Regions from separate parts of the Homo sapiens genome. Here all the other regions are linked to region 3. Evidence: fine-mapped expression QTL. A gene starts in region 3. Each other region holds a variant in brackets. All regions are shown on one strand. Distances are between the middles of the regions.

The links. PIP is the estimated chance that this variant, and not a neighbour inherited with it, causes the effect. A credible set is the group of variants that fine-mapping cannot tell apart.
Region 1: its variant is the best candidate, but not a certain one, in a credible set for the expression of XRRA1 in liver (GTEx, PIP 0.79).
Region 2: its variant is the best candidate, but not a certain one, in a credible set for the expression of XRRA1 in whole blood (INTERVAL, PIP 0.85).

Annotation. Positions count from the first base shown.
Region 1 is chr11:74,767,508-74,772,507 of GRCh38, reverse strand. The region is part of intron 1 of RNF169 (ring finger protein 169); the gene reads right to left. Among named protein-coding and RNA genes, the nearest start is that of RNF169, 21 kb to the right of the region's middle. RefSeq lists a silencer at 4,001-4,090. The variant G/T (reference allele first, on the strand shown) is at 2,229.
Region 2 is chr11:74,837,450-74,845,699 of GRCh38, reverse strand. It overlaps RNF169 (ring finger protein 169), which reads right to left. Exons shown (of 6, transcript NM_001098638.2): 6 at 3,287-8,250. XRRA1 (X-ray radiation resistance associated 1) reads left to right here. Exons shown (of 19, transcript NM_001378157.1): 16 at 429-627; 17 at 1,417-1,532; 18 at 1,741-1,846; 19 at 2,247-4,790. The coding sequence ends at 2,500. Among named protein-coding and RNA genes, the nearest start is that of RNF169, 93 kb to the right of the region's middle. RefSeq lists an enhancer at 648-1,847. The variant AG/G (reference allele first, on the strand shown) is at 4,912.
Region 3 is chr11:74,944,982-74,953,231 of GRCh38, reverse strand. It overlaps XRRA1 (X-ray radiation resistance associated 1), which reads left to right and starts at 4,141. Exons shown (of 19, transcript NM_001378157.1): 1 at 4,141-4,304; 2 at 8,147-8,214. SPCS2 (signal peptidase complex subunit 2) reads right to left here and starts at 3,966. Exons shown (of 5, transcript NM_014752.3): 1 at 3,833-3,966. The coding sequence starts at 3,946. RefSeq lists enhancers at 3,712-3,761, 3,064-3,918, 3,842-4,061, 4,192-4,251, 4,372-4,421 and 1 more.

The sequences.
Region 1 (5,000 bases), 180 kb after region 3:
CAATACATAAAAGTAAAAAAAAAAAAAAAAAAAAACCAGCATCCCTAGTAGTAAATTAACATTTACTGAAGGATTAAGTGCCAAGTACTGTGCTAGGGGTTTCCACACATATTCTTATTTAAGCCTTATAATAACCCTGTGTGGTTGTAGTATTTACTTTTTACAGACCAGAAAACAGAAACCTCTCAAGGACGTTAATTAAGCAGCTTTGTCACGGTCAATGAGACAAAGGTGGCAGAACTGAGATTCAAATCCAGATTTTCTGATTTCAAATTCACTCCCCTTCCCTGACATACATGACCTGCATAAATAAAAGTGATTTTTTTAAAAAAGACCAATTTTTCCCTTAGATCAGGCAAAGGAATCATTCATAGAACTAATTCAAATTACATCAAGAAAGTTAAAACTTTCTATATTTTCCAGACTAGTTTATACATCAAAGCATTTTCCACAATGCTGAATACAGAATGAGTATCCCTTATCTGAAATGTTGGGGACCATCAGTGTTTCGGACTGTCTTTGGATTTTTTAGTATTTGTATATACATAATTAATTATCTTAAGGATGGAAACCAAGTCTAAATACGAAATTGATTTATGTTTTTTGTTTTAAATTATTTTATAGAGAGAAGGTCTTGATGTTGTCCAAGCTGGTCTCGAACCCCTGGCCTCAAGCAATCCTCCTACCTCGGCCTCCCAAAGTATTGGGATCATAGGCATGAGCCACCATGCCCAGCCCATTTATGTACCATATATACCTTATATACACAGCCTGGAGGTAATTTTGTATATTTTATTTTTTTTGGAGACAAAGTCTTGCCCTGTCACCCAGGTTAGAGTTTAGTGATGCAATCATAGCTCTCTGCAGCCCCAAACTCCTGGGCTCAAGCAATCCTCCCACCTCAGCCTCCTGAGTAGCTGGGACTATAGGTGTGCACCAACATACCTGGCTAATTTTTTTACTTTTGTAGAGACAAGGGTCTCCTTATATTGCCCAGGCTGGTATTGAACTCCTGGCCTCAAGTGATCATCCCACCTCAGCCTCCAGAGTAGCTGGGATTACAGGCACAAGCCATAATAGCGACCAGTTAATAATTAAAATAGTTTTGTGCATAAAACAAAGTCTGTGTTAAGTACTTATATGTAGAATTTTCCACTTGTCATGTCATGTCAGCACTTATAGTTTCAGATTTTTGGCACATTTTCGATTTCAGATTTTCAATTAGGGATGTTCAATCGGTAGTAGACAGAGCCAAAGACTCAAAAGCAAGCCAAGTCCAAGACTATATAAAACTAGCCCAAATCTACTTTAAGTGATGGCAAAAAAAATTACTACAACTAGTATTTCCCCAACCAGTAACCTTAATGTTAGTATGACTAAGTATCAAAAATGCACATGGAGGCCAGGCACGGTGGTTCACGCCTGTAATCCCAGCACTTTGAGAGGTCGAGGCGGGGGGGATCACCTGAGGTCAAGAGTTCGGGACCAGCCTGGCCAACACGGTGAAACCCTGTCTCTACTAAAAATAAAAAAAATTAGCCAGACATGGGGGCACTGGCCTGTAATCCCAGCTACTCGGGAGGCTGAGGCAGGAGAATCCCTTGAACCCAGGAGGCAGAGGTTGTAGTGAGCTGAGATCGTGCCACTGCACTCCAGCCTAAGCAACAGAGCAAGACTCCATCTCAAAAAAAACAAAAACAAAACAAAACGAAAAATGCATGTGGTAACGTGCAAAAACAGGAAGAAACAATGGGTAAGAGAAACCTGCAACTGTAAGGTGAAAACATACTGATTTAATTCATTTATTATAGAATTCTGTTCTTCCTAGTCATTTATCTAATGAAAACACACTAGCCAAGAGGCTAAACGTATGCCAAGTACTGTGTAACACAGGAAATAAACATACTCATGTACATTATTCATGGAGGAACTGCGAGCCATTATTTTGAAAAAAATAGCGAGCTACTGGTAGATATGTTTAGATGTCAGTAACCATGTATCCCCACAATTTAACAGTTTGGGGGATATCTTTCATATCTACAGCTAAAATGAACAAATGGCCTCAGTAATACTAAGCCTGGCCTCTACCTTCTCCTATGAATTATAATTCTTATATCCATAACCTGCTTTCTACCAAGATGAGATAAATATTTCCAGCCCCTTGAAAAGCTAGTGGCAATTTATAAGCAAACTGGCAGCTTACTGTTCCTGCAGTATACATCAAAAAA[G/T]AAATACGATGGCTATCGCTTAGACTCTCAAGTTCTGCCCAAGGCCCAGGAATGGGCTCTCCAAGAGTACCCTGAACTCAAATTCTGAGTAAAATCTGTTCTGCTCTTGGTTCTTACAATTGTACTTTCCCTTTTTCATGCACTCTATTTCCTTCCTTTCATTATCAAACTGTGAAACAGTAGTCTAAAGCCAGGTATGGTGGCTCACACCTGTAATCCCAGCACTTTGAGAGACTGAGGCAGGAGGATTGCTTGAACCCAGGAGTTCAAGACCAACCTGGGCAACATGGTGAGACCCTGTATAGTACTAAAAATACAAAAAATTAGTTGGGCACGGTGGCACATGCCTGTAGTCCCAGTTACTTTGGAGGTGGGAGGATCGCTTCAGCCTGAAAAGTAGAGGCTGTAATGTGCCATGATTTCATCACTGAACTCCAGCCTGGATGTCAGAGGGAGACCTTGTTGGGGGGTACAAGGAGAGTAGAGTCTACATTGGCTGATTGTTTCTTCATTTCTCACTCAAGCTATTGAAATGACTCCTATCTTCCGTACTTTTACTTATATAAATGGCATCAAAGGATACATATTCTTTTGCAACTTTTCCTTTTGCAAGTATTTTTTCCAGATTTATCCATGTTGATATATACCCAGTTCATTCATTCTAACAGCTGTAGAAACTAATTTATCCCTTCTCCTATCAAAGACAACTGTTACTACATTTTCTAGTACTACAGTGCTGTAATGTGAGCATCATTGTGTGTGTGCATATGTACACAAGAGTTTCACTATGGCACACACCTATTAATGGAATCTCTGCATAGCAAGGAATCTATCTCTTCAACCTTACTAGATATGGCCAAACTGCTCTCCAACGTGGTTGTATGGCAACTTATACTCCTCCAGCAGTATATAGGTGCTCATTATTTATAATTAATCAATTACAAATTATAGCAGTCTGATGGCATATCACTGGTTTAATTTGCATTTCCCTGATTGCTAATGCTGTTGCGTATCATTCTAGATGTTTACCAGACTTTCAGTTTCCTTCTTCTATGAAATGCCTATTCAAATCTTCTCACCATTTTTCTAATAAGCTATCTGTCATCATAATGATTTGTAGTTCATATATGTTGGATATCAATCTTTTGTCAGTTACTTCACTGCAACTATCTTCTCCCAGCCTCTGGTTGGTCTTCTTACTTAATCTCTTTTTCTGTTTCTGGTGTGTTTGTTTTGTTTTGTTTCTTTTGAGGCAGGGTCTCGCTTCTGTCACCCAGGCTAGAGCACTCACTGCAGCCCGAAACTCCTGGACTCAAAGTATTCTTCCACCTCAGCCTCCTGAATAGCTGGGTCTACAGGCACACCCCACCATGCCTGCCTAAATTTTTATATTTTTTTGTAGAGACAAGGTCTCCCTATGTTGCCCAGGCTGGTGTTGAACTCCTGGCCTCAAGCAATCCTCTCACCTCAACCTCCCAAAGTCCTGGGATTATAGGCATGAGCCACCACGCCTGGCCCAATTTTTAACTTTAATGTGGTCAAATTATCAATCTTTACATTTTTTGTTTGTTTGAAAGCCTTTCTCTACTCCATTTTCATAGAGATAGTCCTAGCATTTTCTAAGTTTTACAGTTTGACCTTTAATCCATTTACAACCTTTTTTTTTTTTTTTTAAGACAGAGTCTAGCTCTGTCACCCAGACTGCAGTGCAGTGGCGTGATCTCAGCTCACTACAGCCACCGCTTCCCAGGTTAAAGCGAATCTCCTGTCTCAGCATCCTGAGTAGCTGGGACTACAGGCATGCGCCATCACGCCTGACTAATTTTTGTATTTTCAGTAGAGACGGGGTTTCCCCATGTTGGCCAGGCTGGTCGCAAACTCCTGACCTTGAGTGATCCGCCCACCTCAGCCTCCTGAAGTGCTGGGATTACAGGCGTGAGCCACCATGCCTGGCTCTACAAATAATTTTTTGCATATGGTGCTAAAGATCTATTTTTTTCTCTAAGGTTAGCTAACCACCCATGAAAAGTAAAAATGACACCTTTACCCTAGTGATTTGTAATGGCCACTCATTATCCACCAAATTTAAATATATGAGGGCATGTTTCTATGCTCTTTAATTTTAACATTAATTATTCAACCACCCTGATACCAATACTTCACTGTCTTAATTAACATGGCTTTAAACAGCTTGATATTTGAGAAAGCAAATCCACCCATCGTGTTCTTCAAAATGGTCTTGACTATTCTTGGCCACTAATCATCCTTATTGATAAATTCCACTTAAAAAGCAAAGACAGTGGCTGGGCACAGTGGCTCACACCTGTAATCTCAAGACCTTGGACAGGCCAAGGCAGGGGGATATCCTGAAGCCAGGAGTTCAAGACCTGCCCTGGCAACATACTGAAACCCCATCTCTATTTTTAAAAAATAAAAAAGAATGGGGAGGCCGAAGTGGGCGGATCACGAGGTCAGGAGATTGAGACCATCCTGGCTAACACGGTGAAACCCCGTCTCTACTAAAAAAAAAAAAATACAAAAAATTAGCCAAGTATGGTGGCGGGCACCTGTAGTCCAAGCTATTCGGGAGGCTGAGGCAGGAGAATGGCGTGAACCCAGGAGGCGGAGGTTGCAGTGAGCCAAGATCGCGCCACTGCACTCCAGCCTGGGCGACAGAGCGAGACTCCATCTCAAAAAATAAATAAAAATAAAAATAAAAAAGAATTATCCAGACGTGGTGGCCCGTGCCTGTAGTCCCAGCTACTCGGGAGG
Region 2 (8,250 bases), 110 kb after region 3:
ACTGTACCAATCTTTAGTTCCCCGAAAATGCACCTTGATGTTTCTTACCTCTGCGCCTTTGCTCGTGCTGTTCCTTGTCTGAAACAATCATTCTTTCTCATCACTTGCAGTCCACACCTCTCCCCATTGCTCCGTAGGGATGGCTCTCCTGGCTCTTCAAGACTTAGCTCAGGCTAAGGCATTCCTCCAAGGGAGCTTCTTGGCTAGGTTGGGGCTTCCTCTGGGATCACCCAAAACCACTGTATTCCCTCTGTTAAAGCATTTATCAATTGTCTATTTTTATATCTGCTTTCTTCCATCCCAGTCTTGGTCTTACCCTTGCCCTTAACAGGGCCCAGCAGAGACCAGCACAGAGATGATACTCCGAATGTTCATGGAATGAATGAATGAATGAGTGACAAATGAATGCGTTTTCTTCCTGGGCACAGGTGAGTGAACTGCCTTCCTCCGTCATCCATAAGGATGATTTAGAGTTAAAGGAGAAAGACCAAAAGAAACCACCAACGGCACCCAGAGAGGTGAAAGGGACTCGGAGGAAACTCCCAACTGCCTTCCTTCCCAGCAAGTACCACGGCTATGAAGAACTGCTGACAGCCAAGCCTGATCCAGCCTTCATTGAGCCAAAGGGTATGTGAGGGCATATCCTTGCTCTAGGGCAAGAGGCCATCTCCACAGCTCAGAGCAAGTCAGGGTCAAGCCAAGGCTGGCACCAAGCTGTCTTTTCCCAACTAGGGTGCTGTCCTCTGTCTAAATACCTGTCAAAGGGCTCCTTTTAGGGTGTCCTTTGTTTGAAGCCCCACATATTGGGACCCCTGTCCTGGCCTAGGCCTTCACTGGCTTATGGGGAGCCACAGTTTATTCAGAGATTCTAGTTGGTCTCAGCCTAGCTGCTCTGGATGATAAAGTCTCTCCTCAGGAAAAGTGTGATGAATGAACACCCAGAATGGCCAGATTCTTGAGCTTTTCCCAGCCCAGGTTAAGTTCCCAAACTGAACGTCCAAAATCGTTCCTATCTGGTTGGAGGCAAAGGAGGCAGCTTCATCTCTGTGTTAATCAGTACTTCCAAAGCAACTGGCATTCAGCTGGGCTGTTCTGGGTGTTAGCCCCTGCGATATAACCCCCTGAGGTTAATGGGGTCACATTGGAGCCAGCCTTTTCCCCCACTCCAATACTATTTACCCATTACAATCTGTGCTATTTTTCCATTATAATATGGGACAAATACTCACTGAAGAATGATGGAACTTCAGGCACTGGAACAGATCCGGAAGAAACCTGGGGGCAGTGTTTTCTTTTGGGGACTCTCAAATCCTTTTACCTAGAGCTGCTGTGAGACTGAGGAATGAAGCAATCAGGGGAGGCATCTGGGAGGAGGAGGGGGAAGTGCCTTGACTCAGTCTTGCCTTCTTGCCCTAGGAATCCAGAAGAATGCACAAGCCCTGCAACAAATGCTGAAGCACCCACTCCTGTGCCACTCCTCCAAGCCCAAGCTGGACACTCTTCAGAAACCCTATGTTCACAAAGAGAAACGGGTAAACATCCAGCTCACTGAATGTGTAAATGGCCCCTGAGTACCGCCCACAATTACAGATGTGGCTGTCACCTTGGGACCCTCTGAGGGCCATGCTTTCCCAGCACCCCCAGATGCCCCCCAGCCTGTTGCTGTGACTGTATGAAGTTAGGCCAGGGAAGTCTGTGCATAAACCTGGGATAACACCCTCCTCCATGACCTTCTGCCAGGCCCAGAGAATCCCGATTCCACCCCCAAAGAAGACTAGAGCCCAACTTCTGGATGACATCTTCATTCGCTTGCGGGATCCCCGGAACATTACAGAGGCTCCACTAGGTACGGCTCTGCCACAGCTGCCAGGATCCCAGATCCAGTTCACGCCTGCTGGCTAAAGGCAAAGAAAGGGCTTGTGTCAGTGCAGGAAAGGCCCTTAGAGAGCAACTGCCTACATCAGTCTCTACATGTAGATGGACAAAAGGAGAGCCAGCGTGAGGCAGGGAGTTGCCTAAAATCACACAGCATGTTAAGGTCCTGAACCAGGGCTTAAGATAGAGTCAATGCATAGGGGCAGTAGGAAGTCAGTGACTTCCCAAGCTGGAAAGGCCATTTTTAGCCCCTTAGCATCCTCCTGCCACACCATCCCATTTTCCAAGGGTCTCTGGACCCAATCCTCTTGCTTCTGGCTAGGTGAGAACCAGGATGAGCTTGGTGCCTCTCCTGGCTTCTTTTCCTGCAGGTGCTGTCCTGCACCAGTGGACAGAACGGCGGCTGGTGAACCACAAGCAGTACCTGGAGGCCAAGAGGCTGTTGAAGGAGTTCCAGGCACGTTACCGGCAGCTGGTGAGTGGCTCTCTGCGCACAGTGTTCGGGACTACCCCGCTCCCCATGGCCTGCCCAGCGCTGAGTGAGAGCCAGCCCAAGTTCGGCCACTTCCTCGAGTTCATGGATGAGTTCTGCCAGGAGCCCACAGCCAGTGACTCACAAGGCTAGAGCTGTGCATGGGGGCTGTGTGCACCACCCGGCCTGTGCCCCAGCTCTCCCCGAGGGCTCTGTGCCCTGGACCGCACCTCAAGGTTGACCAGCCGGCCACAGGCCTCAGAGCTCAGCTGGGCCCCACTTGCTGGCCACAAGGTGGCATCCCCTTGTCAGGATCTCCCCTCCTTGGCCCAGGCATGACCTGGTGCCTGGCCCAGCGGCAATAAAGAGTGGGTGCACAGGGCAATAGACTGGGTGCCACATGCATTCTTTCTTGGAACCCAGGCCACAGCAGCATTGTCACACTTCCCTCTAAAAATGGTTTTCCAGTTCAGATGCAACAGGGATACATTTGTTCTCTGTTGTATGAGAAACTGACACCAAGGGGATCTTAACAAATTCCTGAACAATGGCTCCAAAAAAGGGTATTTTTAAAAACCAGATCTTGTGAGTACAGCCCTAATGTGCAGGGACAGTGTCATCCTGTATATTCGTTCTTTACTCAGACTCTTTCTTGGTTCCTTCATTAGGAGCATGAATGGTTGAATGTGAACATGACAGTAAATTGGAGCAAACTGTAAACTGGACATAACTTATGCCAAAAGACGTAGTTGTACACCATGGAAACCCCATCCCTGCTCCTAATCTCTACTGCCATTCTGAATGCCAAAGCAAGACATCCAACATGGGGCATCTCCCAGAGCACATACAGCACCAAAAATCCACACACAGCCTAAGCTTAACCCATGTTTTTGTCTGAGATTGTTCACCAGAGACAAGACTCTGACTATAAACAGAACATCCACTTTCATGAGTTTCCTTTACTGTATTCTCAACTTGGGCCTTGCTTCAAGCAGGCAAACATACATTGAAGAATGCACTTTGGTACTGTTTAAATAACAACACATCAGCCCACTTGATTCCATGCCATGTCCTTGCTGACAGAAACATCCCCAACAGGGCATGCCCTGGTCCAAGTCCTCTGTCTTTGTCAAAATGCTCTTCTGATGAGTTGGAGAGGAGGCAGCCAGCAGTGGCAGTCCACAAGGATCCAGGTACCTTCTCCAATCCTAAAGCAGACAGCAGGTTGAATAAAACCAATACACAACCTATTTTCTAGGCAGGAGGGGAAAAGGCCCTTAGGACAATAATATTTGTACAAAGAGTTGAGAGTAAACAAACAGTGTATCAGGTTCAAAAAAAAAAAAACTATTCGTTGGCATTTAAATTTTTTTCCCTTGCATAGTATCTATTCTCTCACTAGGACTTTTAAGTGCTCTGCTGGAGGCTCAGCGTTGGTAATACCATGTTTGATGCAAACTTGAACCCAATGCTCTCATTGGTGGCACAGCTTTGGAGGGTGGTGGCCCCAAGAAGGGGCAATCTGCCTGCTGCTATATTAATCTGGAACCAGGGCCAACAGCTACTCTTGAACTATGGTATTTGAAGAGCGAGTTCATTGCCTGTTTTACCTTAAATGACAGGAAAGGAAGATGAACAAACCTTGCTTTGCCTTGGCTTCAAACTAGTTCTTGATTTAAGACACCAGAAAGGGAGAGAGGGAGTCTGCTTAGAGTTTGAGGTTGCCTCTCACAAGATGACAGTTAAAAGTTGCCACCTTACTTAAAAGGCATTAAGGAGGCATTTACTCACAAAGGAGAGAGAGTAAATTTTTTTCTTAAGAGGAAAAAAATACTGATAATACATAGAACAATCTGCACATCCAGTCTTGGCACTTTTTCCAATTTGACTGATCTCTAAACTGGTGACCCTTGCATATATCTTAGTCTCTTTTCTACAATCTTCTTCAGAAAGCTACAGCAGCTAACAATCATGTATAAAGATGCATTTCCTAGATCATCTTCAGAAGAAAATCTCTTCAGCACTTTCCCTAGAATCTGTCTCCTGACCACCCCGCCCCAGACCTGCTTTCTCTTTTGAGAATTCATAACCAGGTATGTTTAGATACCAGTTCAAAAGACCACTCTATGGGTTGATGAGGAAAAGGCTGCCTGAGGACAATTTAAGACCATAATGAGTTTCCAATTTTTAAAGAAAATTTGGCTAGCTGGCTTTTAATTCTTAATTAAAATCATTAAATTTAATTAAAATTATTCCAATCAAAATATATCACTTTCCAAGATTCCACATTCATATTACTTACTTATACTATGGAGACTTTCTCTACCTGAGCATGTATTCAGGGGCTATAGGTACATTTAACTCTAACTAACTGAAAAAAATCAGGAAGAAAAAACTATTAAAATAAAATAACCTCCTAAATCATTTGGGGGTATCCCCATCATTGGTGCGTGTGTCTGCGTGTGTCAAACTTTAATGATTATTTATTCAGACCCTGGAAAACCACACTATAAAATAGGGCACTGGATCACAAGTTCGTTTGGTTAAAAAAAAAAAAAAAAAAA[AG/G]TGGGGGCGGGGGGCAGAGAAGAAGTTTAACTTGGATGATTTCCATGCCCATTCCAGCTGTAACATTCTATGACTGTGACCCAGCCTTTGTTCTCTTTTCTCACTCTCCTACTAGACATTTCAATGAAAAGTTAGGCAGGAAAAAGGAAAGGAATCCCAAGTTGCTGCCAGCTCTGATGAGAGATCAGGTTGGGGGAGAGATTAGGTGGTTACTGAATTGAGGTGTGGGCCTCCCCTGACCATGTCAGTGATCCACAACCCACCTCACTTCTTGGGGCTTAAGCTAAAAGCAGCTTCTGAAGAGATGTTAATGTCCTGTAATCACTAGAGGAGAAAATTCATTCTCCTTCCATAACATTACTTAGTAAAGGAAAAGCGGTGGTGCAATCAAATTCACAAATACCAATGGGGTCTCTAAAATGTAGAATGCAGCTTGCTGGGTGCTGGTCAGTTTTCTAAATGGGACCAGAAATGGCTTTCCTAAGACCATAAATGAACTCTCCAGCCACACATACATTCAAATGCATTCCATTAGACATTGAGCTCCTCAAGAGCAGGAACTGCTTTATCTCCACAGTCCAGCTCAGGGTTGGCTCAAGTCTGAAGCTCAGTAAATGTCTGTCAAATAGAAAAGAAAGGATGAGCCTTCGGTCATCAGCTACATGAGTCAGGCACGGTGGCAGCTTCCCATTTTAGTCAGTTTGCCAGTTTGTAACCAGACAGTAATCAATTAAGAGCTTTAATCTCTTAAGGACATTTTTCCTTTAGGGAAAATGAACAAAAAATAAAACATTTATTACCAGTGCTGCTTCCAAGCAAAAATTTAAAAATTAAATTAAAATTTAAAAAATAAGTGAAGCCACTTAGGAGTTTCCCTGGCAAGCCTCACCCAAGAAGACTTAACCTTTTTTAAAAAGAGGCAAATAGATTAAAGGGGCCAGGGGCTGGATGCATAATCCCCTGATCTGATACCAACCCAACAGGCCCAGATGACTTCTTCCAGCAGATACAATCAATGGGTCAAGAACATTTTCTCAAAGTTTCTTTCCCTCTCTATGGAAAAGAGCTGACAGCCCCCTTCTAAGGGCACCACATTTCCTGGATTTCCCCTCAGACTGACCTTCACCCTCCCCCCTAACTTCCCCTTTAATAATAAAAAAACCCAGAATGCATATATACAAGGAACAGAGTAAGACATGGGTAATTTGTATGGTGAACTGGGCTTCAATGATTTGTGAGGAATTTGTTTTGTGAAATCCTGCACCTCTTATTCTAGCTCACAAACCCTTCCCATCGTTCTGTTTCCTTCCTTGTCCTTTTCTGTTCCCCCAAATAATACACATCAACATATCGACTTTTAACCAACTTCAGAATCATGGAAGGAGAGAGGGAGATTTTTCAGAAAGAAAAGCATTCAGGTTTTAGTTATTAAGGATGGGAAGCATCTTAAAATTCAGATAATACCTTAGTGGTTTTTCCTTCCTCCAAAGCCAACCTGATTAAAGATCAACCCTCCTCCCTCCTTAACCTAGACCACTCTACCTATATTTGAAGGACTGTTGCTCAGCAGGAAGTTTAGAAAACAACTGTCAATACCATCCTAGGCATCACTGTAGGTACAAGGGGGGAAGGCAGTAAGCTGGACCTAGAGTTTGGACTATTTGCTTAACAAGAATTTGTTCTTCATTCTGCACTTGTTACAACTGCTATGCAATTCTTAAAATGAAAGTATTAATTTGGGGAAATATTTAAAATATATATCTTTTATCTATTAAAAATATTTCTTTTTACCAAAGACAAAAATCAATTCCAACTGAAAAGTGTTTTTCAAATTACTGGAGATATAGAGAAAGATGGCAAGTGGAAAAATAAGTGTCTTTGCTCCTACCAACAAGACTAGCCTTCCAATAATATTTACTAAGATCAAAAAGGAAATGCGTGAAATGGCAGTAACTGATAAGTTTCCTCTAAGGGCATTTATAGTAAGGTCACCCTCCCTGTCTTCTGTAAACCAGAGCCAGCTCTTCTGTTTTGGGCACAAACATGCCCTCCAGCAGCTCTTGGAGGACATAAATTGTTGGTAGGGCCCAGAACTGAAGTGGTGTGACTACAAAATCATGAGTTTGGTAAATGTTTTTAAAACATACATCTGCATATGTGCACACACACAGAGAACACAGAATGCATACATTCAGGTGAGTGATGTTCCCCACCAACGTAGTCACCAAAGAGATTCCACCTATCTCAATGATGACCACAATGTTTAAGACATCTCTGGAATTTCTGTTTGGGAACTGTTTGGGAACTATGAGCTGCACAAGAAAATGGCTCTGCTTTACAGCAGCACTCATTACTACAAACCCACTTGATAAGCCACCTTCTTTCCCAGAGGCTTCAAATAGCTGCTGGCTAGTCTCAGACATTACATTCTCTCTCTCTCTCAACCACAAATAACCACAAAACACTGAAGATTTGCCCTGAGAAAAGGCAAATCTGAGAACACTTAAAAGGAGTTATACTATCTGCCTTGATCAATGGGTCACTGTTCTGGACTTTGGCTTCTAGGTCTAGAAGCTGAGGAGGACCTTAGGAGGAGGCTGGAATAGATAACCATTAAGGTCCCTTCCAGTTCTAGCATTTTGGGAGTCAGTGTTTCTAGTCTTTGAAGACAGTTCCAGAAATGCTTTCACCAATGGCACTGGAAAAACTAAGCAGTATCCTGCTGGGGCTACTCAAAGGAAACAACATATATTGGGATATATAAGCTCTGGAAGGTCTGTTAAAATGCCAGTCACATGACTTTATATAGTAACTCATACTACATGGGGCATGCCAGCCCATCAGAAATTCCCTAAAATCATATCTTCATCCCTATTCTCAATGAGCCCAGATGGGCAGAAGCACCAAGCACCACCAGGGATGCAAAAGACACATGGTGTCAGCTGCTAAGGAAAATAAACCCCCAAAGGTCCATGGGACTGAATTTACCAGCTGCATCCAGCTAGATACCTTGTTTCCATAGTATGGAGTTTAAGTATTGTTCCTTGCCTGACTTCAGGGTGATTTTTTAGGATTTTAGATCAACATTGCAGATAACCCTTGGCCATTTGAAAAGTAATAATGAAGCCTGATTATAGTTTGTCTCATAGGCTGAAACCCCCAGAAAAGCAGAAGGCTCTAAACTGTGGGGGATGGGGATAATGCACATATATGTTTATCCACCCTGTCGATCTTGTTTGCATGTGGATTCTGCACTATCAGTGTTCAATGCCCAGCCTAGCTTCCCCTAGGCTCCCCTGGCACACCCTTAGGTTGTGATCTATTTGGGAAACCTTTAG
Region 3 (8,250 bases):
AAAAAAAAAAAAAATTATATTAAAGGTAATAGCTTCTCATTCCCACACAGCAAAAGCCTCTCTATTCATTCAGATCCTGCTCCACTGAGAATAACATTTTTTTCCCCAAGTTCTCTCCCACAGTACCCTCAGTCTTCAAACAATTAGAGGCACCATCCTCTAAAGCTGTTTCTGAAGACTGAGGTGGCAGATCTCAAGTTTTTTCTCTGCGAAATTCAATGCTAAAAGTACTTATCTTGTGTTGATCACTACAGAGAAGCACTCACAGGAAAACGGGCAAATACAAATTGGTGAAATAATACAAGACAGTATGTCATATTAAGTGACAGCTTAATTCCCATGTGCAGTGTAAGTGCTAGAGGAATTCAGGGAGGGAACAGTTCAATGTAAGGCTGAAACTAAGTTTTCCAAGAAAAGGCACTCAAGCAGCTCTTGACTATTCTCTTCTGTCCCTCACTTATTGGTTAAATCTTCCAAGCACTCTTTTGTGAGACCTTTTATCTATTTCTGCTACTCATGTTGGGGTTCTCATCACCTTGTCATTCTATTTTTTACCACAGACAGCCCTTTACAAAGAACATTTACTTCTAGTAGATTCCAAAGGACAGGGAACAGAGCTGGGTGCGGTGGCTCATGCCTGTAATTCCAGTACTTTGGGAGGCTGAGGTGGGCAGATCACTTGAGGCCAGGAGTTCACGATTAGTCTGGGCAACACAGTGAGACCTTGTCTCTACCAAAAATAAAAATAAAAATAAAATAAAAAGGGCAGAGGAAACCAAACTAAAAAACCCAAAGAACATTTACCAGCACTATACAATTTGATCCTTACAACAAGCCTATAATATGTATGAATGTCCACAATATTTACATAAGGAAATTTAAATTCAGTAATATCACACAACTTATCCAAGGTCATGTGGCTTTTATTAGGTAGGTGCAAAAGTTATCGTGGTTTTTGCCATTACTTTCAATGGCAAAAACAGCAATTACTTTTGCACCAACCTAATAACATGCGGCACTAGAACTCAAATTTGTCTCTTTTTATTATATATTATACACTACTGTGTATACGGCCTTATTAAGAAGTCTTCTAATTTCTGTCTCTCCAAACCATCTGAATAGTTTTCCTAAAAACCACTTTACACAGTCTCAAAACCCTTCAACAGCTTTCCTCTACTTCAAGCAATCCACGGCCTCCCTAATCAGATGCTATCTACTTGTCACTACAGTTCCTTTAGAGAGCCTTCTAGTCAACTCAATACCTGAGAAACATAAAACACCATCACATCTGTGTAACTTTACTCAAGGAGACTTTTTTACCTGGCATGTCTTTCTTTTCTCCCCCCAAATAAGGTGCCAGTTCCACTTTCAGGAATGAGGCCTTTCCTTCAGGCTCTTACTCTTTTTTTTTTTTTTTTTTTGAGACAGAGTTTCCCTCTTGTTGCCCAGGCTGGACTGCAATGGCGTGATCTCGGCTCACTGCAACCTCCACCTCCCGGGTTCAAGCGATTCTCCTGCCTCAGCCTCCCGAGTAGGTGGGATTACAGGCATGCACCACCACACTTCGCTAATTTTGTATTTTTAGTAGAGATGGGGTTTCTCCATCTTGGTCTGGCTGGTCTTGAACTTCCGACCTCAGGTGATCCGCCTGCCTTGGCCTCTCAAAGTGCTGGGTTTACAGGTGTGAGCCACTGCGCCCGGCCGAGGCTCTTACTCTTATCAATAAGCTCGCAGGGTTCACTCTATTTCTCTCATTTGAACTTCCGTAACAAGTACACACTTGAGCGAATATACCATATACTTCCTTAAATAGATTCAATTACCCCATCTCCTATATTTGGCTATTCTGAGTGCTCTCTGACAGTAGGATTCTTGATTTACTCCTCCACCATCACACATCTGTACTGGACACTACAGGTAATGGAGATCATTAATGTGTACTGTCTTACTTGGTTCTTCCCAAAACCCTGTGATCTAGGTGCCAGAGATTCCAAAATTCCAAATGAAGAAAGGTTAAGTGACTTGCCAATCTTCATACTGTTAGCAAGTAGCAGAAATACTTCAAAGCTGAAATCTTATGATCCCCACATCCGGGTTCTTTCAATAACACAATGGTGCCATATACACTATTCCATAATAATAGTATTCTATACTGCCTTAGCAGAATGCCCATACTTAATGTTTGCTGATGATGATCCAAGTGCAAGGAAGAGCAAGAGCAGTTAGTGGGGCAGGTAAGCACAGGCTATGAGGTGCTTACCTAGCAAGAGGGAAGGATTTGTGTACACAAATGACCATCAATTCCCCATACTCTCACATGTCTTGAAGCAATTTACCATCCCAACCTCCAGAATATGTTTCTGTATCTTAAGGTTTGAGTGTGAGGCCAGGTGCATGGTGACTTATGCCTGTAATCCCAGCACTTTGGGGAGCCAAGGTGGGAGGATCTCTTGAGGCCCAGGAATTTGAGACCAGCCAGGGCAACACAGTAAGACCCTGACTCTACAGAAAAGTTAAAAGCAAAAAAATTAGTCAGGCATAGTGGTGCACATTTGCAGTCCCAGCTACTCAGGAAGCTGGGGTGGGAAGATCACCTAAGCTTAAGAGTTCAAGGCCGCAGTGAGCTAAGATCCATTCTGGGCAATGGAGCGTGACCCCTCTCACAAGAGAAGAGTGTGAGAACCATGTCTTTCAAAACCAATGACACTCAAAAAGACAAGTAAAAAGACCTGGATCTTAACCCCTCAACATAATCATGTTTTCATTTCTTAAGCACCTACCATGTGTTATGCACAGGGAAGTCTGAAAGCTGTTTTCAATTATATTCAAAAATTCTGCTTACTATATTAAAGACACCATGCTTAACAATTCTCATCAAACCAGCCCAGGGCCCTACAATGAGAGAACTGGAAGGGAATTTAGAGTTAAGTCCCTCATTTTAAGGCTAAATCTCTCACTTTGCAGATGAGAAAACAGATATAGAGAGAGCAAGCATATTTCAAGGTCACAAAGCTAATTAGAGGCAAAATCAACACCAGGACGTTGTTCTCCGTGCAACTGTTTCTTCCAAGATGCTGTGCAAAGAGCAAGAAAGGCCAACCCAGGGACAGTTTTCCTTTTTTTCTTTTCTTTTAAACCCTTGTTGCTAGGACTGCAGTTAAAAAAAATTTTTTTGGATGAGCAGAGGGAGGAAAGGGGCAAGCGTGAGCGGGCAGCAGTGCACTTGGTAGCAAAGAGGGAGGTGGAGGGAAGAGAGGAGAGGGCGGGGAAAAACAACAGGAAAAAAAGAAAAATCTTAAAGGCTTCTTGTCAGCCCAGTAGAACAGTCAATACTCAAATATTTTCAGTATTCGCCTATCATGATAAAACGCCTAAAAACTTCAGTAAGCAAAAGGACAAGAAGCACTTTGGAATCTGTAGCAGCACGCAAGGGTGATGGTGGTAGAGAGTTTGGGGGATACTGATTCTTTAATCTTTGGGCTTCGGTTTTCCGTGTCTGTGAAATGGGCACTGACAACAGTGCACCCAGCCCCCCAGGAGAAAAGAGATGGACACGATTAAATATAGGAAAAATCAAATTACCGAAAAAGGTGTGGCGACCAGGACCAGAACACTTGCGAGAAAAGAAGAAGTTCTAAAGAGGACCGGGTCCAGGTTTGAAGTGTGATGAGGGCAAGGGCAGGCTCCAAGCGTGCGTAGGGTTGTGATAGTGGTCACACAAGGGCTCCCCTCAAAAGGCCGTAGAAAATAAGGGAGACCGGGATGGGAAGGTTGGCTCGCCGCCTCCCAGGCCTCCCCAGGATTCAACTGTTCCCAAGAACCGGCTCCTCACCTTATCCAACAAGCCGCTACGGCCACTTCCTGTCCCGCAGTTGGAAGCACCACCAGCCCCACTACAGCCTCCGCTACCACCGCTTCTCCCGCCCTGTACAGCTGCCGCCGCCATCTTGTCCGCCTCTGCGTCTCCCTCCCCTCCGACTTGTCTGAAGCCGATTGGCTGGAGCTGACAGCGTGACGCGCCGCGCGGAGTCAATCGGGATCCGTAGTTTGGGTCTTGCTGGCGCGAGGTAGTCAGAGGACGTGGCCGCGGGGCTTGCTGGGACTTGAGGTTAGACGTCCCGGCCGTCGGTTGCCGCCTACACTGTCTGCCGTCGCGTCGCAGTTACTAAGGCGTGGGGAAGATAGCGGCAGGCACCGCAGTGGAGCGGCTCCGAGATCCCCGGGGGGCTCGCAGGCGCGCATCCCTCCTGACTGGGACGTCGCCTCCGCAGACCCCTCGGAGGCTGAAGCGACGCCGGAGGCAGGTGCGACTGAAACTTAGTTTTCGAATTCGAGTCTTTCTCCGGCCCAGGTGTGGAGTTTCCAAAGGAGTGGGCAGGAGCTTGTCCTTCATCCTTTTCTAGCCCGGTTGTGGCACTTACCGATTATTCTCTCAAGCAGCTGTCATTTTAGCTGTTTGTAATGTTTTCGTGTTAACGGAGAACTCGCGTTTACTGAGTGCCTACAGTCTGCCAGGCAGTATCCTATGTGCACTTCCAGCCATCCTCTCTCTCACTGAGTCCCACAACAGCCCTGTTAGATGAGGAGGAAACTAAAGAACCTACCCAAAGCCAGATAGCATGTATCTGAACTCGGTTTTCAAGCCGGCATTTAAAAAAAATCAAAACCAATATATATCCCTTCTGACACTCTGCTTTTACGGTTTTAGGATGTAATAGTATTCTAGATTTTAATTATTTTTTTCACAAATGTATATTGAGCACCAATATTGTACTAACGGATACAGGGGATCAAGATAGACCTGGTTGCTACTCTGGTGGACTACTACTCCATGACAGAGTTATCAAATAGCAGTATTGTATTATACCATGCTCTATTACGTTGTATTTTAATTAATTTTTTTCACAAATGTATATTGAGCACCAATATTGTACTAACGGATACAGGGGATCAAGATAGACCTGGTTGCTACTCTGGTGGAACTACTACTCCATGACAGAGTTATCAAATAGCAGTATTGTATTATACCATGCTCTATTACGTTGTATTGTTTTTTAATTCCTATATATCCCCCATAAGCGTCTAAAGAATTAAACAAATATTTTTGAGTTTCTTACTATGTAACAGGCACTATTCTAGTCACCAGGGATATATCCCTGAATAAAACAGACAAAAACTTGTCTTGGGGAAGCCAAAATTCATGTGAAAATAATTATCTCGGCCGGGCGTGGGGGCTCATGGTTGTAATCCCCGCCAAGGCAGGCGGATCACCTGAGGTCAGGAGTTAAAGACCAGCCTGGCCAACATGGTGAAACCCCGTCTCTACTAAAAATACAAAAATGAGCCGGGCGTGGTAGCGGGCACCTGTAATCCCAGCTACTTGGGAGGCTGAGGCAGGAGAATTGCTTGAACCGGGGAGGCGGAGGTTGCAGTGAGCCGAGATCAGAAAGAAAAGAAAATAATTATCACTAAATAACTAAATTATTACTAAAAAGAAAATAAATATCACTAAATAGCAATAACATCAGATGATATTTCATTACCTCTGTGAAGCAATCCGTGGACACTAGTCAGATCCCCTGTAGCTTGTTGTTGCAGTTTATCTTTTACAACTTCTCATTTTTCTTTTATTTAAAATAAAGTGAGATGATACAGCATTGCCCTAGTCACTTTTTATTTTATTTTTTATTTTTTGAGACAGAGTCTCACTCTGTCACCCAGGCTGGAGTGCAGTGGTGGGATCTTGGCTCACTGCAACCTCTGCCTCCTGGGTTCAAGCAGTTCTTGTGCCTCAGCCTCCCAAGCTGTAGTCTTTGTAGCTGGGACTACAGGCACATGCCACCACACCTGGCTAATTTTTATATTTTTAGTAGAGACAGGATTTCGCCGTGTTGGACAGCCTAGTCTTGAACTCATGACCTCAAGTGATCCGTCTGCTTCGGCCTCCCAAAGTGCTGGGATTACAGGCATGAACCACCACACCAGGCCAACTTCTCATCTTTCAAGATCCAGCTTTAATGTCACCTACCCTGTGAAACTATTTCTGATACTTGCTTCTTCTTTCTTCACCCACTGCATGAAGTGCTCCTGTGGCATTTTGTTCATGGGTTGGGTTAGTTCAATTAACAATCATTGAGACTCTTCCTTCAGTAGGCCAGGTCCTGTGTGAGATGCAGGATAAAGAGATAAGTACAGGCTCACGCCTGTAATCCCAGCACTTTGGGAGGCCGAGGCGGGCGGATCACGAGGTCAGGAGATCAAGACCATCATGGCTAACATGTTGAAACCCCGTCTCTACTAAAAATACAAAAAATTACCCAGGCATGGTGGCGGGCGCCTGTAGTCCCAGCTTCTAGGGAGGCTGAGGCAGGAGAATGGCGTGAGCCCGGGAGGCGGAGCTTGCAGTGAGCTGAGATAGCGACACTGCACTCCAGCCTGGGTGACAGAGCAAGACTCCGTCTCAAAAAAAAAAAAAAAGAAAAAGAGGTAAGTAGGACCCAGGCCTGACCTGACCTTGGAGATACTCACAGCCTGTAGTGAGGTGGGGAACAAACAAGGAAGCAGGCATTATAATACAGTGTGGTATAGTGCCTGTATTAGTCCATTTTCACACTGCTATAAAGAACTGCTCAAGACTGGGTAATTTATAAAGGAAAGAGGTTTAATTGACTCACGGTTCTGCATGGCTGGGGAGGCCTCAGGAAATTTACAATCATGGCGGAAAGGGAAGAGGCAAGTCTTACATGGCAACAGGCAAGAGAGGGCAAGAGTGTGAAGGAGGAACTGTCAGTTATAAAACCATCAGATCTCGTGAGAGCTCACTCACTATGGTGAGGACAGCATGGGGGACCACCTCCTTGATCCAATCACTTCCTACTAGGTCTCTCTCTCAACACATGGGGATTATGGGGATTACAATTCAAGATGAGATTTGGGTGGGGACACAAAGCCTAACCATGTTAGTGCCTCCATTAAGAAGTGGGCCTGATGGCTGGGCAAGGGGGTTCACGCCTGTAATCCCAACACTTTGAGAGGCTGAGTTGGGAGTTTGAGGCAGCCTGGGCAACATGGTGAAAACCCATCTCTATCAAAAATATAGAAATTTAGCTGGGCATGGTAGCACACGTCTGTGGTCCAGCTACTTGGGAGGCTAAGGTGGGAGGATTGCTTGAGTCTGGGAGGTGGAGGTTGCAGTGAGCTGAGATCATGCCACTGCACTCCAGCCTGGGTAACAGAGTGAGACCTTGTCTCAAGAAAAAAAGAAAAAATAAATAAAAAAAGAAGTGGGCTTGAGGAGGCTCAGCCTAAGGAGAGGGAGATACAGGAAAGCTAATCTGTATGTAGCCGGGCAAGGAAGAGGGGCAGAAATGTGATAGGCCAAAGGAATGGAACAAGCAAAAATATGCCTTACTCTGTGTGTGTGTGTGTGAGAGAGAGAGAAAGAGAGATGTTTGTTTTGGAGGAAGCGCTACAGTCAGATTGGCATTAGCTGCATCAAGTTTGAGATGGAGACCAGAGGTAACTAAAGCTAACCAGGAAGTCAGCCTCCAAATCTGGAACTTTGACTTTTTTTTCTACCATATAAAGATCTTACTTGTCTTAGATAATGTAACCAGGGGTTATGTGCCCTTCTTGGCCCATTAGTTGTAGATCTACACCTTCTCACCTAATATTCCTAATAGGGAACTAGAATTTCTGCGATAGCATCCAGGTCTGCATGCCTCCTACAGGCTTCAGTGTGAGTCATCTTTTGTATTATATGCATGGCAAATATCTTTTCCCAGACTGTGTCTTATCTTTCAACTTTGACTTTCCTATTTTTATCTGGCAGAAATTTATTTTGTGTAAATAATCATGTAAACGATCCCGTCCTTTCAGGTTTGTGCTTCGTGTGTCTGATTTAAGCACTCCAGCCATACCCCACTATCATAATTATATTCTCCTATACCACCTTCCCATCTATGTCTTGTCTTTGTCTCCATCTCTGTATTGGTATCTATCTGTTTCTTGGATCCTTAGTCCTACGGGCAAGGACTAAAGGCAAGACAAATATTGGAGTGGAAGGCTCACAGTAGAATATAATTAATGAGGAAGTTCAAGAGCTCTGAATAGCAGGCTAAGAAGGAATATAATATTTATCTTACAGGCAAAGAAACAAGTGAAGAAACAAAAAAAAAAGGAAGTTAAGGGGCCATTCCCAAAGTCAAAGATCAAGTAAGTACTCTGGAGACCTGAAGCCAGGTCACCATA